Regions from separate parts of the Homo sapiens genome. Here region 2 is linked to region 1. Evidence: fine-mapped QTL for protein levels in blood plasma. A gene starts in region 1. The other region holds a variant in brackets. All regions are shown on one strand. Distances are from middle to middle.

Evidence for each region. PIP is the chance, under the fine-mapping model, that this variant and not a neighbour inherited with it causes the effect. Sun 2018 read protein levels with aptamers (SomaScan).
Region 2: its variant is fine-mapped to the plasma level of the C1RL protein (Sun 2018, PIP 0.95).

The regions. Positions count from the first base shown.
Region 1 is chr12:7,108,247-7,110,746 of GRCh38, forward strand. C1RL (complement C1r subcomponent like) reads right to left here and starts at 968. Exons shown (of 6, transcript NM_016546.4): 1 at 864-968; 2 at 5-233. The coding sequence starts at 934. It overlaps C1RL-AS1 (C1RL antisense RNA 1), which reads left to right and starts at 62. Exons shown (of 12, transcript NR_026947.1): 1 at 62-235; 2 at 427-701; 3 at 1,818-1,901; 4 at 2,052-2,326. RefSeq lists enhancers at 1-1,187, 20-189, 830-909.
Region 2 is chr12:7,169,250-7,172,275 of GRCh38, forward strand. All of the region lies in intron 1 of LOC124902869 (a long non-coding RNA gene), which reads right to left. Among named protein-coding and RNA genes, the nearest start is that of PEX5, 19 kb to the right of the region's middle. The variant T/C (reference allele first, on the strand shown) is at 1,383.

The sequences.
Region 1 (2,500 bases):
TCACTGTGACAGAGTCCCCTGCACAGTCCTGGGACGGCTCCAGGTCGAAGTCCTGGAAGACGAGCCTCACAGCAAAGCCCTCTGGAGCCTTGATGTCCGTGCTGCTCTCTTGGCCTTTGCCATACGGCTCTGGGTACCCGGGGGATGTCAGCTGCTGGGGTAGCTCTTGGGCCAAGAGGACGGAGCCCCGGGTTGGGCAAGCCTGGAGGACTCCCCAGAGAAGCAGCCACCACCTGTGAGTTGGGGGGAGGGCAAGGTGGGGCCGCGCAGCTATGGCCGGAAGCCTGTGGGTGTGGGAGGAGCGGGGGAGCCGCGCTAGGACTCAGAGGCCTCGCGAGGCAGGGCTAGAAGCTGTGGCCTCACCCTTGAGGCCCGGGCACTTCCCGTCTCCTCCCTTGCTCCCCTTCCTCACCCCAATCCCTACAGCCTCCCGCGCAGCCTGAGCTCTAGGATTGTGGGTTTTCCATCCTCCGAAGACATCACCTTTGCTCATCTCCCAGGAGAGTCTCGTCCAAAGGAGGGGGGTGCTTTCTGCTTCAGCAGATCCCACCCCACCCTGGGATCCGAGGGAGCAATGGTGGGGCGAGTGAGGGTCTGCCGTAAATATCCCCCGACCACCCTCTGGGAAGGTGCTAGAGGCCACAGGCAAATTTCAGTCTCCCCATGGAATATCTGCTGTGCTGCTGCTGCTGCTGCTGCTGGTGTGTGTATGTGGGGGAGGTGTGTGTGTGTGTGTGTGTGTGGGGGGGGGGGGGATGTGTGTGTGGGGGGGGTAGGGTGGGGGGAGGGAGGGTTTGCGGCCACCCACCCTTTCTCTTCCCCTCCCGTCCTCTTCCCTCCTCCTCTGCCGGGGCCACACTCACATTGCGCCTGGACAGCCTTTGGAGTGAGGGCTTCTCCAGAGATATTTCCCCCACACTCTGGGTCCAGGCATCTGGAACTGGACATCTGGGACCTGCGAGAGAACTGGCCCAGGATAGGGAACAAAAGGTGAAGGCCGGTGGGGGAGGAGGAAGTTCCTGGAAATGTTAAGCAACTCCACAGTTCCCCTTCTCCAATTCTCCGGGCTGAGCGCCACCTGCCGTCTGACTCAGGAACAGCGGGCCCGCCGCAGCTTAGGGGAGAAACGTCCAAAAACCTCGCTGGCCCTCAGAGGTCAGGGTGGCAGGGCACTGACTCGACCCTTTTGTACTATTTAACATTAATTTTTGCCATGTGTGTAGGATGGCTCCTTGTGAGTTATGGCTGCTGCCTTCAATCAGCCATGTCTCTTCCTCCCCGACCTTTCCGTTCACGACATACCCGGGGAGCCTCCCTCTTGTAGAATTGAAGTTTGTGATCCTTGAACTTGAGCTTTCTCTTCCTTTCCCTCCTCCCCAAGCAGGGGTGGGGGACATGCGCTTAGGTGGTCTTTTGAATCCTATTCACAACCTCTGGAGGCTGCTTGTCCAGCATGGTCAGGGCTGGGGTCGAGCCCAGGTGTCCCTCAGTCCCTAGTCCCAGTCATCACTCAAGCCGTCACTCAAGCTTCTTTAGGCAGATACTAGAGCCCCTGCCTGCTCTCACCGCTCCCCGAGGAAGGACACTCACCCACAGCTTGGTAGGAGGCCAGAAGGCTCTTATGGAGATGGGTGGTCCCATCCTCAGAGAAGGCAGGTGTGTGGAAGGCCTTACGTTGTATGCACACACAAATGCATGTGCGCGCGCACACACACCTCTCAGAGAAGAATCTATTGCTTCCCCCATTTTGCATATAGTAATATGGAGGCAAGTTACAGACCCAAACAGGGTGTGCTCTGCATCTTTGGTTTTTCTAGGCTAGAGAGATTTAGGAGAGCCACAGTCTATGGCTACAAGGAGATGATAAGAGAGTGATGGCCAGGACAGATGCAATGTCTCAGGTACAGTCTTGAGATCAAGCCTACCTGTCTGCCACACCCCAACCCCAAACACAACTGGGGATGATCTCCCATACCCATCTTCGAGGAGTGGGCCTCTCTGACTAGGACTTCTTTCCTCCCCTGAGACCACTGAAACCTGCTCTCTCATAGAACTCTTAGGGTCACCTGGAGCACCTTGGGAGCCAGAGATGCAGCCAAAGAGTGAACAATGGTACCAATCCCAAGACCCATGTGTTAAGAAGAAACCAGCCAAGACTCAGATCAGGATTGGGGAGTCCACCCCTCGTTTCCCTTCAGAGCATTATTTCCTTGTTTGCTAAGAGGGGCAGGAACTGGAAAACTCAGGCTAGCCCATCTGAGAAGACTTTCCTGGAGATGAGCTGGAGGAGGGAGGAGTAAGGCCTTGGAAGGAAACTCCAGGACAGGTAGGGTGACCGACTGTTCTGATTTGCGTGGGACCGACGGGTTTCCCAGGACATGAGGCTTTCCGTTTTAAAATGAGGGAAGTTCTGGGCAAGCCAGGACTGGTGGTCACCCTAAATGGATAGGGGTTAAAGTGCTGGAGTGAGGCTGGGTGAGAAAGAGGACAGGGAGCCAAG
Region 2 (3,026 bases), 61 kb after region 1:
TATTAGAGCAAATTCAAATTTGGCCTCAAGAAAAAGCAACTCATATTCTATTGCAATACCACTTGGTTTCAATACAAATTAGAAAACCAATAGATTTGGCCTAAACATGGTTCTATATGTTATAATAATATTTTACGATTAGACTCATTCTGTAAAGAAGAACGGAAATGAGAGGAGATCCCTTGTGTACAGGCTTTTATGGTCCTTTATTGGCTCATGTTACTTCTAAGTAACAGGAAGCTGTGCCTAAGGGATCCCCTCCTAGCTGCTCCCCCTAGAAGGCCTATGGCCTCCCTGGAGTCTCCTCAGTCCCCCAGTTCTGAGGGGGGTCCTGCCAGTTCTCTAATGAAGAATTCCACCCAAGGTCATTGGGCACCCCTTCCTCTTATCCAGCTACCCCAGCCTATACACCCTGCTGCCTGAGAAAGTACCAACCAGTACCACCAGGAGTAGGGCTCCATATCAGCTCCAAAAATCAAACCTGTGTCCATTGAGGGAGGTGCCTGATAGAAATGAGGAAACAGAGTACATGTGCCATTTTCTATGTGTGATTTAGTTTTATACAAGGAAAAATTTGGCCAGAGAATCCAGAAAAATTTATAAAAGAATTTGTTAAATAGACTATGTTTTTTAATTTAACACATCATGTCTTGCAAGTATTGTCATCTGCTTGCTGTGCTGTGGAAAAAAAGCAGAAGAAAAGGTGTGTGGTTAAGCCAGTGAATTATGACAAGGTGAGAGAAATAACTCAAAGACAAAATTCCCACTGTTTCAAGGTCATTTGTTTGAGACACTCAGGAAATATACCAATGCAGACCCAGACTCCTCAGAAGGGCAAGCTCTCCTGAGTATACATTTTACTACTCAATCTGCCCCTGACATTAGGAGGAAGCTACAAAAAGCAGCAATGGGACTTTAAACCTCCAAAGTCAACATTTAAACATGGCCTATAAAGTTTACAACAATAGGGCCAGGGCAAAAGAGGTGAAAAAAACAACAAAAAATAGCCCAAAAGTTCAATTGTTAACAGTTACTTTAAGCCCCCTGCCACCTCAAAGTTGCCCATCCCAAGAAAGTGTCACAAGATCAGCATCTGGGATGCCCAGACAAGAGCCCATATGTGTCTACCATAAGCAAAAGGGCCACTGGCAATGAGAATGTCCTAACTGTCCCTGGTGAGATAGGGAAAAAACTCCCTGTCAATACAGAGCTAACCTTCCATTAGCTACACTTAGTTGTCTTGCTCAAATAAGTTTACTGGGGGTCTTAGACCCTGACTCAATGGACAGTTTCCCACAGTGGTAGACAAGTGGCTGGCTGAACATTTTTCTTCAATATCTCCACTGCTGTATGAGCTCTCTGGCAGCCTGGGTACTCCAAGG[T/C]CTTTCCTTGAGCAATGCAGTTTGCCTTCTCCCTTCCTTATTTAATGCTATGGGATTTCCTTCCCTGCCTTTTCCTGTCTTCCATATCTACTGGGGCAAAAAAAATTTTGGCCTAATAGATGGTCCCAATTTTGTAAATAATTTGAATCCAGCTGTCTTATATAGGTCACTTCATTCATATAATATGTGTTGTGTCTAGCATGCTATCAAATTGCCTTATAAAAGAATGCTCATAAATTAAACAGATTAGATGATTGTAAACTTACTAGTTTTTAAAAAAATGTTGTATCTTCTACAATTTAACTTTAAGATTTTTACCTAAATAAACTATTAATATTCATAGGCTTAAAAATGATTACAATAGCTTTAAGTGGTGACTAGCTTTGTGTGGTTATTTTGGTTCTTGGTGGTAGTCTAGATAAAACTATTAAAAGTGAAATCTTAAATACGTCTAAATGCTGAGACCAGCTCAGTTGGGGAGACCCTAACCCAGCGGCGCTAGAGAAATTAAAGACACACACACACAGAAATATAGAGATGTGAAGTGGGAAATGAGGGGTTTCACAGCCTTCAGAGCTGAGAGCCTCGAACAGAGATTTACTCATGTATTTATTAACAGCAAGCCAGTCATTAGCATTGTTCCTATAGATATTAGATTAACTAAAAGTATCCCTTATGGGAAACGAAGGGATGGGCTGAAATAAAGGGATGAGTTGGGCTAGTTATCTGCAGCAGGAGCATGTCCTTAAGGCACAGATCGCTCATGCTATTGTTTGTGGTGTAAGAATGCCTTTAAGCAGTTTTCCGCCCTAGGCAGGCCAGGTGTTCCTTGCCCTCATTCTGGTAAACCCACAACCTTCCAGCATGGGTGTTATGGCCATCATGAATATGTCACAGTGCTGCAGAGATTTTGTTTATGGCCAGTTTTGGGGCCAGTTTATGGCCAGATTTTGGGGGGCCTGTTCCCAACATCTAAATATAATAGATACTTAAACAGTGAACTTTTTGTGTGGTTTAAAATCTTGAAATTGTGCAATGGTTCTCATCTATAAAATGTCAGTGTTTCATGGGCAGTGCAGGATTTCTTACATCCTTGGTTTATATAAAATATGACAAAAATTATATTCTTTATTGGGGAATAATAATAATAGTTTTTGTTTAATTTAAAAATTATTGAGAGGTTCAAAATATGAGGGAGCCAGTAAGTTAAAAAAATTATATAAAAAATTACAGATTAAAAGATTTTTGGCAAGTAAAAATATAAAGAATAATTTTGTATGAAGAGGGATCTTGTAAATTCTTGTCCTAAAATAAAATGACTCGTTATGTAAGAAAGAGATAGTATAAGACAAGTCAAAAAGTCCAAGCATATTGTATGGTCTGTGTAAGTCATGATAAGGTTTATGAAGGGGATTTATGTATGGAATTCTGGGTATAATTTAACTAGTTGTAATTAAAACAAAATCATTTAAAATAGACTTTCTGAAAAATGGTCTACATGCTAAAACCAAATTTTCATAAGATATTAATTTGCTAAATTATGGGAAATTTTACTTTTAATATTATAACATGGGGGCAGTACATCCAACTCAAATTCCAGAATTTCTTTTTTTTTTTCTTTGAGACAAGGTCTCACTCTGCAGC